Homo sapiens: one gene and its partners. The protein of the gene in region 2 interacts with the protein of the main gene of each other region in a biochemical or structural test. Each region holds a gene or a part of one and is shown on either strand. Other genes may lie near its edges.

The links.
Region 1: the proteins of TFCP2 (region 2) and NOM1 form a complex in vitro, tested with the Homo sapiens proteins (one large-scale study listed by BioGRID).
Region 3: of the proteins of TFCP2 (region 2) and MAPK8, one has a biochemical effect on the other in vitro, tested with the Homo sapiens proteins (one study listed by BioGRID).

Annotation. Positions count from the first base shown.
Region 1 is NC_000007.14:156,959,561-156,963,211, forward strand, and holds part of NOM1 (nucleolar MIF4G domain-containing protein 1), read left to right. Parts: intron 1-290; coding exon 291-614; intron 615-2,590; coding exon 2,591-2,701; intron 2,702-3,447; coding exon 3,448-3,615; intron 3,616-3,651. UniProt on the Homo sapiens protein: Plays a role in targeting PPP1CA to the nucleolus.
Region 2 is NC_000012.12:51,117,506-51,121,156, reverse strand, and holds part of TFCP2 (alpha-globin transcription factor CP2), read left to right. Parts: intron 1-2,384; coding exon 2,385-2,536; intron 2,537-3,409; coding exon 3,410-3,486; intron 3,487-3,651.
Region 3 is NC_000010.11:48,435,673-48,440,007, forward strand, and holds the end of MAPK8 (mitogen-activated protein kinase 8), read left to right. Parts: 3' UTR 1-3,688; downstream 3,689-4,335. UniProt on the Homo sapiens protein: Serine/threonine-protein kinase involved in various processes such as cell proliferation, differentiation, migration, transformation and programmed cell death.

The DNA of each region.
Region 1 (3,651 bases), on a different chromosome or scaffold from region 2:
AGACATAGGTGTGTTTTTAACATCATTTTTAACAGTTTTATTTTTCCAAGGAGTCAGAATGGCTGCTGGCCAAACAGTGCCCCTTGGTTGTTGATTTTAACAAGAGGAAGGTGCCCTTGCGTCCAGGCTGGGGCACTCTGGCCGGCTGCTCTGGGTTGCCGAGGGATGCCTTGTTGGAATGCCCTGCCTTGTGGCACTTTGTTAATTTAGAAAGTGCCAGTTCTGTGTGTTGAAGGAGAAAGGAAGGTTTCTAGGAATAACATAATCTTTTTTCTGTGTGGTTCTTTCAGGTCGGTGCCCACTTTCTGGAGGCAGTGGTGAGGAAGTTCGATGCCATCTATAAATACGGAAGCGAAGGGAAAGAGTGTGACAACCTGTTCACCGTCATTGCCCATTTATACAACTTCCACGTGGTACAGTCTCTCCTCATCTTCGACATTTTGAAAAAACTGATTGGAACTTTCACCGAAAAAGATATTGAACTGATCTTGTTAATGCTGAAAAACGTGGGTTTTTCATTGAGGAAAGATGATGCTTTATCACTTAAGGAATTGATCACTGAAGCCCAGACCAAAGCCAGCGGGGCAGGCAGCGAGTTTCAGGACCAGACCAGGGTACGCGTGCGACGCTTGATCTGCTTCCTAAGTCCCTAAAGCTCACAAACTGGCCAGAACCTAAAAATCAGTATCTGGGGTAAATATTACACTTGCTTTCCTAGTGATTTCTGTTTTTTCTGTCTCATCCTGTTTTCTGGCTTTAATATGTGAATGGACCTTATTCCTTTACCAGAAAAATATTTTGTGAATTTAAAAACTGATTTATTTAACATTCATCCGTTAAAAAATGCTTACCGAGGAGGCCACAGGACATGGGGCTCTAGGGTCAGCCTGGGTTGGACTTTGGGCTCTGCCACTTGACAGCAGCATAACCTGGGTCTTCTGAGCCTCAGTTTCCCCCTCTGTAAAACAGGGACTGATCACAGCTCCCACATTGTGTGCCGTTCAGATGATGAGATGTGTGGAACCGCGTGTTCCTGGGAAGCCGTTTGGGGAAGAACCCGAAAAGGGTTAGTTTGAGAGCCTGGAGGGGGCATCACAAGAGAAAAAGGCAGAGTTCAGGTCTCTGGTCCCTTGTTAATTACTGCAGGGAATTGAGGGTTTTATCCTAGAGGCATCTGAAGGGTTCCAGCAGGTGAATGACAGGTTGGAGTTTTCCTTCTGATGGTCACTTTGACTCCAAGGCAGAAAGAGGCATGAGGTGGTCGAAGTCAGGAGGAGTTTTGCAGGAGCTGGGGAGTAGGTGGTGGCAAATGTTGGGATCGTGGCAGTGGGTGTGGACATGGGCGTCAGAAGTGACCAGACCTCATGTGGATTGGGATGAAGGGAAGGAGGGCTCAGGGTCACCCATCAGGGGCACAGGGGACCGTGCAGGAGGAGATGAGGATTTAGGACAGGCACCTCCATTTTTGAAAGACTGGGTTAGCTGTGAACAGAGTGGGCTGAAGGGATATGGGGCTGCTCTCGTAGAGGGGGTCCTGGGAGCCATGGAAATGGGTGGACTTGCCTGGCAGCAGGTGGGCTGTGAAGAGGACCTTCAGGTTAAGGAGCACTGACGTCTAGCTGCAGGCAGGAGGGAGAGCTGGCAGGTGAGAAGGAAATGAGGATGGTCCCAGGAGCCAGGGAACACTAGTGTCCCCAGGAAGAATTCACGCCCGTGTGGGATGCTGAGGACCAGCAAGAGGAGGAAGGGATTTGCATTTTGGGCTGAATTGTGACGGCGGTCCTGACTGGCTTATCCTGGTCCCCGGAGAAGCCAGTCTGAAGAGGAGGGGGCTGGAGAAGGGAATGGGAGCAGCGGGCTCAATGGTGGTTTCAAATGGAGAAGAGACAGAAAGTACATTAGTGGGCTGGGGAGCTGGCTGGGGAGTTGGGGAAATGGGGAATGGTTGTTAATGGGCTTGGAGTTTCTCTTCTGGGGTGATGAGAAAGTTCTGAAATTGATTGTGGTGATAGTTGCACAACTCTGAATGTATTAAAAGCCACATAATTATATACCTTACATGAGTGAGTTTTATGCTATGTGAATTCTGTATCAGTAAGAAGTTGACATTTGGGGACATCTCAGAGGGTATGTGGGAATTCTTTGTGCTGTTCTTGCAACTTTTCTGTATGACATTACTTCCAGTTTTAAAGTTAAAAAAATTACAAGGCCAGTGGTAGGAGAGAGGATGTCCAGAGCAGGTCGCGGGGGGCCAGGGTGGGAGCAGGAGCGTAGTAGAGGCCGGGGTGGCCGAGTAGGTGTGGACGGTGCGGAAGGGTGAGGCGTGTGGCGAGCAGAAGGGAAAAGAGATCTCTGGGGAGTTTGGGTTCCCACTTGACGTTGGGGGACACATTTCCATTTTGAAGTATTATGTAGCCCTGAGTAAGCGGCTGAGACTAGTTTAGACTGTCTCTACCTAAAGGCTGTCCTGACTTTGTATCGTGGCGGTGGCGGCCATGTGCATCAGGTGTGGTAGATTTCTTGCCAACTTGAATGGGCCGTTTAGACTGTTTGAAATGATGGACTTTCCATTTTTTCATTTTTCTTGAAGATTCGGTTTATGCTAGAGACGATGTTGGCCCTGAAGAACAATGACATGCGCAAAATTCCAGGCTATGACCCCGAGCCCGTGGAGAAGCTGAGGAAACTGCAGAGAGCTTTGGTGAGTCAAGGAACTTTCAATTCTGTTTTGCTCAGAGCTTCCGTGTCGGCATGAGCCTGTCATGAAAATCAAGAAATAGTCAGACCTGCACGTCAGGGTGGTGTCTGGTGAGTGAGAGTGCTCAGAGGCAGAGTGAACGCGGCTCGGTTTTCCTCAGGGGCTGTCCCAGTGGTCTGGGCGTGCTCGTGCAGAATGTCCGTGTGTGGGGAAGCCCATGTTGGGCGAGCGTCCTCTTTGCCTCACCCCGGGTGCTAAACTTGGGCTGCACCATTGGATCATCCGATGCTTTCAGAGAAGGCCAAGTCCCCATCCGGACCAAGGAAATTGGGATGACGTAGGTCCTTTGACTCTCTCTGACATGCAGCCAGGATGGAGACTGGGGCAGCCTCCCTGTTGGAGTGAGTCTTTCAGCCCCTGTCATCTCAAGTCCAAATCATTGCTGACCCAGGCTCTTCCAGGCATGTGCTCACCTGCCACTGAGCCTGAGGCAGCTCTGTTACTCTCTCCTGTTGGGACAGCTTTCCAAACACAGCGTGTTTGGGGTGATGGACTCTCAAACACAAAACACTGAGTTTACCGCTAGTTTTGGCATTTTTCCAAACAGGCTAACCGTCCCAATTGCCAGTGACCCATTCCAGTATTCATGCACCAGAAATGTCATGGTCAAAAACAAAAAGCCACCGGTGATGGAAGGACGGAATATGAACCAATTAAAAGCATTTCATTAGCTCTTCTCTCTTCATCAGGTCCGCAACGCCGGCTCAGGTTCTGAGACGCAGCTTCGCGTCTCCTGGGACAGTGTCTTGAGTGCGGAGCAGACGGGTCGCTGGTGGATTGTGGGGTCCGCCTGGAGTGGGGCCCCGATGATCGACAACAGTCACCATACGCACCTGCAGAAGCAGCTTGTGGGGACGGTAGGGACACCCATGCTCAAGGCTGCCAGGCAGAGG
Region 2 (3,651 bases):
GAGCCATACCGTGCCTAGCCAAGGGAATCTTAATTGTTTCTTTTATTTCATGTACCCTGTTCCTTTTCTTTTGTACCCAGAAGTACTCTGTGGCCTATATATATTTTTTCTTTTTTAAAAAAAACTTTACTGTGGAAAATTTCAAACATATACAAAGTAAACAGAATAATATGATGAACCCTCTTGTACTCATCACCTTGCTTTAACATGTTACTACTCTTTTTACCTTTTTTTTTTTTTTTTTTTTGAGACACAGTCTCGCTATGTCGCCCAGGCTGGAGTGCAGTGGCACAATCTCGGCTCAAGTGATTCTCGTGCCTCAGCCTCTGACATAGCTGGGATTACAGATGTGTGTCTCCACACCCATCTAATTTTTGTATTTTTATTAATAGTAGAGATGGGGTTTCACCATGTTGGCCAAGCTGGTCTTGAACTCCTGGCCTCAAGTGATCTGCCTGCCTTGGCCTCCCAAAGTGCTGGAATTACAGCCGTGAGCCACCACACCTAGCCCTCTTTTATTATTTTTACTTCTACCTATTCCCCATCCTCTAATCAATAATTTTTTTTTTAGGTAAAATTCATATACAATGAGATGCAAAAATAAGCTGTTACAGTTACAACCACGTAGCAGACCTATCATAGTATAATACATTTTTATCTCCCTACAAAGTTCCCTTATATACCTTCCAAGTCATCCCCTGCCCCACCAGGAAACCATTGTTCTCTTTGGCTCTGCCTGTTTTAGACTGTCATATAAACAGAACCATGCATTACACATTCTTTGTGTCCGGCTTTTTTTGTCGAGCATTATATCTGTGAGATTCATCCGTGTTGCATTCCTTTGTTTCACTGAGTAGTCCATTGTATGGATATACCATGGTTTGTACATCCGTTCTCTTACTCATGAACATTTAGGTTCTTTCCAGTTTTTATTTTTTTGTTGTTGTTGTTGTTCTTTTTTTTTTTTTTTTTTTTTTTTGAGACAGAGTCTTGCTTTGTTGCCCAGGCTGGAGTGCAGTGCCACGATCTCGGCTCACTGCACCTCTGCCTCCTGAGGTCAAGTGATTCTCCTGCCTCAGCCTCCCAAGTATCTGGGACCACAGGCATGCGCCACCACACCCAGCTAATTTTTGTAATTTTGGTAGAGACAGGGTTTCACCATGTTGGCCAGGCTGGTCTCAAACTCCTGACCTCAGGTGATCCACCCGCCTCGGCCTCCCGAAGTGCTGGGATTACAGGCGTGAGCACCTGGCCTAGTTTTTGCTTTTATGCTGTGAACATTTATAACAAGTCTTGGGTGGACTTACATTTTCATTTTTCTTGGATAAGTACCAATGGGTGGAATTGCTGGGTCAATAGATGCATGGTTAATTTAATTTAATTTTTTTAATTAATTTTTTTTTTTTGAGATGGAGTTTCGCCTTTGTTGCCCAGGCTGGAGTGCAGTGGCACCATCTCGGCTCACTACAACCTCCACCTCCCGGGTTCAAGCAGTTCTCCTGCCTCAGCCTCTTGAGTAGCTGGGATTACAGGCATGCGCCACCACTCCCAGCTAGGTTTGTATTTTTAGTAGAGACAGGGTTTCGCCATGTTGGTCAGGCGGGTTTCCACCTCCGGACCTCAGGTGATCCGCCCACCTCGGCCTCCCAAATTGCTGGGATTACAGGCATGAGCCACTGTGCCTGACTGCATGTTTAATTTTATAAAAAACTGCCAAACCTTTTCCTAAACTGTTTTATGTCATTGTACATTGCTACTGACAAAAGGATGAGAGTGTGGTTTTACATTCCCACTGACAAAGGATGGGTATGTGTCTTTGGTTTGCAAGTTTAGATAAACTGATAGATACAAAAAGCTTTTTCTTAGAGGAAATGGCTTGTAGGAACATCTCAATATTAGTTGTTATTCCACAGAATGTAAGATGACCTTGAAATATATACTCGTTATTGATTTGTCCTTTTCACGTGGCTTCTAAGGAATTGTAGAAGTTATTTTAGTCCTTATAGTAAATCAGCTGATATGGTTATATAGATAGTATAGTTGTTGCCTTTCTGAGAATGAAGACGTTACTGAATGTCCTAGATTTATACATTTTAGAACTCTGTTTATAATTTCCACAGTCCTTTTAGGAACCCCTGTCTATGATTCCTAGAAACATTCTCTTTAACACTTAGTGGTTTTAGCAGTGAATATCTGTCATCACCCACACTGTTGTGGTCAGGGGGATATCACAGCAGGTAATCTAAATGGAATTCTTGGGATGAAACTCCACCAAGGTGAGTAATGTTTATGGCTTTCCAAAGCATTGCAGTTAAATCATTCAGCAATAAACCTGCGTTTGCACCATTGCCAGGTATTAATGTGAGTCATTTGTTTTATTTTAGTGATGTCCTTGCATTGCCCATTTTTAAGCAAGAAGAGTCGAGTTTGCCTCCTGATAATGAGAATAAAATCCTGCCTTTTCAATATGTGCTTTGTGCTGCTACCTCTCCAGCAGTGAAACTCCATGATGAAACCCTAACGTATCTCAATCAAGGTTAGATGCTTCCTCATTCATTAGTACTATTGCAGACCTACTGTATTTATGATTTTTTTGTTTGTTTGTTTGTTTTGAGACGGCGTCACCCAGGCTGGAGTGTAGTGGCGCCATCTTGGCTCACTGCAAGCTCTGCCTCCCGGGTTCACACCATTCTCCTGCCTCAGCCTCCTGAGTAGCTGGGACCACAGGCACCCGCCACCACACCCGGCTAATTTTTTTGTATTTTTAGTAGAGATAGGGTTTCATCGTGTTAGCCAGGATGGTCTCGATCTCCTGACCTCATGATCCGCCTGCCTTGGCCTCCCAAAGTGCTGGGATTACAGGCGTGAGCCACCGTGCCCGGCCATTTATGATGTTTTATTAGGTACACTTATATGTAAAAACTTAGATCTTTCTAGTGTGGCCTATCAAACTAGAAGTCCTACTTCAGAGATTTGAGTTCTAATGTCATACTTGATATCTATTACTAGCTTCTTTTGCTTAGCTGTCCATTTTTAGTGTCCAGCTTCCTCTTCCTAATCATATTCCCTAGACACTCCCATTGGTTACTGTCTGAGAAGTATTACTCTACCTGGCTCTATTATTTACCAATTGTGTGGCCTTGGACAAGTTGCTAAAACTCTTTTAAGTTTCAATTTCTTTGTCTGTAAAATGGGATTGATAATACCTTAGAAAAGTATATCAGTTAAATGAGATAATGTGACAATACTTAGCACAGTGCTGAGCATCTTGTAAAGGCTTCTGATTGTTGTTACTAATACTAATAATATTATTATACTGTTGTATATTCAACCAACTGAATTTTATTCTTTCCGAATCTAGCAAAGTTAATTTGTGGTGAATATAATATGTAATTACTTTTTCTTCTAGGACAGTCTTATGAAATTCGAATGCTAGACAATAGGAAACTTGGAGAACTTCCAGAAATTAATGGCAAATTGGTGAAGGTAAAACGAATAAATCATTCTTCTGTACAATATTTTTTACTAATCCTTTTGGGATTTTAAATTTTGTTGTTGTTGTTAATGTTCTTTTGCTTCCAATGGCTTAATGGTATCTCTTGCCTGCAGTAATTTGTTGGCAGAGTAGTAAGCTGATGTGTTATTTCTTTG
Region 3 (4,335 bases), on a different chromosome or scaffold from region 2:
TGGCAGAATAACTCAGAGCATGTCTTTGAAGATGCTGGGCGTCTACCACCACCTTATGTCCCCACCCTACCCAACAAAAATAAGTAAAAAGAATATGGTGTATTCTACAAATTTGTGGCATGCTCAAAGTTTATGATCACATAAAGGCAAGAGGATACTTCATGAATAATACATTTCAATGCAAATAAACAGATGGTTCACTTCTACTAGCTATGAGCCTGTTTTTGTATACACTGAGTTAATCTACTCAGGCTGTAGGTCCCAGCAATGTTCTAGAGTCTGGTCTTTCCCTTTCCTGCAGCTTCGGGTCCTTGGACCTTTCCTGTTTCCTATTACTTGGAGTGTCTGTCAGTTGAGCACCAGTTGTTCTGGTGTTTCATTTGATTCTACTTGTAGCATAATCATTTATACGAGCTATTGGGAGGTTCCAAACCCTACCTAGATTTGTGTAGGTGATGTATCAAATGAGCAATATACCGTTCATCTGAAAATAGTAGCACACAGCCATATATAGGATATCATTTTCTAAGGACTGTTTCTTCACATTGAGCAGAGCAGGCATAAATGGTGGTTATTTAGTCTAAGTCTTTTATTTTTTTATACCTGATTTTCAACATAACACGCAATGTGGATGTCGAGTAGTGTTAAGAATGGTGCTGCTCCTGACAAGTGTATGTTAACTGTTTACATTTTCTATCTGTAGAATTATTTCTCTATTACTGAACTTTTCCTAAGTAAAATGTCTTTGAAGTCTCGTTATTTCTGAAATACGTTGTCTGTAATAGACCCAGGCACCTTTTAAATTATCTCTGGAACAAGAGGGATTTCATGTAATGAACTAGGAAATGCATACTCACATAAGCAACAAGGTTCTAGGCAGAAAGCCCCTTGGAATTTGTGACCAACAGGAGCAAGAACAGGTGCGGCTCAACATGCAATGTCTGAAAATTTGCTTGGCATTTTATTCATATATTTAGTGCAAAATTATTTTTGAGTGAGATATTTTACATCACTGTTAATGTGCAATATTTAAGATTAAAATACATTAGCTTTTTTATATACTTTGAAGTAGCAAGTTTGTTTTCGATGGCTTAGAGTCATGATTTCCAGCTTCCCAGCCTTTTTATCAGTCCCTTTTCTAATACAACAAGGTGCATTAATTTGATTAGGCAAATTAGAGTTCTAAGACACTTCTTGAATTGTAGACAGAAAATATTGGATTCACAATTTCAGCAGAAATTTGAGAATGAGTGTGTTTATATTAATTTCACAATTAGCTGTATTTTCTGTAGCATAGATTATGTCACTGTTGCACTTTCACAGCAGACATGCTTTCAGAAGGTTCTCATATTTTATGTTTGATTGCTGATAAGCCATCTCTATTGATACAGATTTTGGTTAAGTAAGGAAAACCAGGTGTGTGTCTGTATCATTTATTGTAAATGCCAGCTGCCACTTGCCAACCATCATGTTCAGTTCAATTCAAAGAAAACAAACTCTCATTACTTAGTGTAAACTAAAATACTTAACAAATTATATCCTAAAAACAAGGTCTCTTTGTTAAATGTTGCATGCCCTAGGTTTTAAATTACTACATCCAAATACAGTTTTCGTCTTAAATTTGTTAAGCTAAATATATGTTGGTTCTTTTTATTTTGGAATCCTTTAAGCATCTTAAACATTTTTTTTTTGAAGAGAAGTTACAAATAACATTTCTATCAGGTAGTACTTGTATGAAACCACCTTTCTTATTCTATAATTTTGATTTTTCAATTTTATATACTTAATATACTCACTGTCTTACTATCAGAAAGTTATTTTGACCAAGATTTTTATTATCTTCATAGATTCAGAAAGAGATGCTAATTCTGTACCAATGTCTTCCTGGTTACTATTCTCTTCCCTCTAATATATACTGGCCATTTGTAAAACCATTGTGTTGTTGGGATCACTTAGTTATACTATACGCAGATAGAGCATCTCAACTCTGTCATAGTGTTTGCTGAACAGTTTTCAGTGTCATGCACCTTTGGCTGCTAATTGTTCCTGACGTGCACTCTTCCGAGTTGGTAAAGGCACAGTGTGTTCATGCCAGACTTCTAAGAGAAACACCAGCCTCTTAAATCAGAAGCCTACACACAACCCCCTTAACAATCCAAAGAAGCTTGATGGTGTGCAAAGAAGCATCCTGCCAGCCTTGTCATTGTTCTGTTCTATGCTAATCCTGCTGTGTTGTCTAAAAGATGGAGGGAAGAGGACATCAGTGTCTGATAGTGAAATCATCAGCAGGAAAGTGAAGCTCTTTCCTTGGTTACAGATAAGACTTGGTTTACACTATTGGCCAGTATCTGCTAAACATATGAAGACTTAACTATTCAGTGTTGCCTAGGCATTCGCCTGCACAACATTTTGAGGTTAGAACATAGAATATTTTCAGAAATACTGTTGTAGTTTGTGAGTGTTGTTCATTAGTTACACATTAGCTATAGAGTGGATGCATGAAGCCCCATGACACCAGTAAACTTCTCTTACCAGTAGGTAAACCAAACACCATTCTGTCATTAGCAGCCCTCTTAAATGTTGCCTCTCCGTATCCTGTTGCATTTTTGTGTGCATTGTGTTTCTACTGATCTCTCTTAGGTTTTTACGGAATCAAAGGAAACTAATTTTTCCTTAATAGCAAGAAAGATGAAGAGGTAAAGGGCATTGAAGCAGAAATGTATAGTTTGGGGTACGATTAGAAAACTCGTAAGGAAAACAGAAGTCCTAATTTCAAACTGACTGCTCTTCGTTAAGTGCTCTTAAGGAGAGTCTAGTAACAGTAACACTTTCTGGCCATTTCTAGTTTAGATTCTCTTCGTTACTGAAACTTTTGAGAAATATTACCTGTGGATTAATTTTGCACAATGTTCTATTCTCATAATGACTTACAAATTAAACTAGGTTTTTATTGAACTACCTCACACTAATTTTCTATGCTTTCCCAAGTAAGCTGTTGCCCTGTTAGATCTTTACTGAGTGAATTATAAATGTGTGTTAAATACTTTCTAGCCAATGTTGACACAATACCAGTAAGTATGTAAAGTATATACCTTACATCAGTAAGAGACACGTGTAAAATCTTTGACTGTATGTCTTGCAAAATTGTGCTCGTTGACATTATTACTGTTTTTGTAAGTAGAAACCTGCTCGTGATATCGGTCCATTTACATTTTACAAAAGGAGTAAATCTTAGTAAAAATTTTACGAAGAAATAAATTACTTTTGTAGGCCCAATATTTGGTATATTTTTGAGAAGCTGTTAATCTTTTAGCTGAATAATGAAGTTAGACTGAATTACGTGTCTCCCTGGACTGTGACATCTATTTTCTCATTACAGTTTATCCTGGTCAGCAGGGTGTCACACCTGGAAACCTGAGTATGATAGCTGACATTTGCTTTTCTCCCTCTGCGATGTCATTCCTCCTCCATTCCTCTCCTTCCCTGTGTTCCGTTCCCTCTCCTTTCCTCTAGACAAAACAAAATGGGGCACTTTTTAGGGAATGCTGAGATCATTATTGTGGTTTTTCATCATTCATGCCCTAGTCATTAAACATGCACCACTGGAATGTAAACAATGTTATCTAGTATGTCAATTGGTTATAATATTTTAAATAAAAAAGAAAAAAGTGGTATGAAAATTATGAAATTAAGAGTTTTTTCATTGAAAACAAAATCTGTTTGTGGTAAAGTTTTTCTTGGCAATTTTAGGATTGTCCGTGGATTGGGATAAAAGGGGTCTTGCTAGGGCCGGTTTCTTAGATTTGGATTTTGTACAGATTGTAAAGAGCCTAAATGATCACGCTGATTATCTGGTTGATCTGGTCTTGGATTTCTGGTGTTTGAAATTGCTGGATAAACTTTATCTAAAAAAGGAACTTTGCTTCAATGCCCTTAACCTAGTTCTTGGTAGACATATGAGAGAACAGCCATCGTGACCACTTGGCAAAAATAAGTACTTAAAATTGGGGTCTGTTTCAAAACAAGCAAGAGGTTTTAGCTTTGACTGTTTCCAACTTTTGCCATGCTTATTTCCTCTTTGCCTACGTTGGGTCTGCTGCTGTGTGGGAATACAGGGTCCCTGCAGTACCTTCCCAGCCACTGTAATGACGCCACTCCGTCTTGCACAGTTCCTGCTCCAAATGACCTTTGTACCGTGCTGTCTGCCCTCACCTGAACTCACACTGCCCTCCTCTGAGGAGCGGAGAGGAAGGGGCTGATCTTTTAGCTGCCCGCTGCTGCTGGATCAGCTGCGTGGCAGCTGAGCTGTTTCATCACCGTCATAGAGAGGCCTCC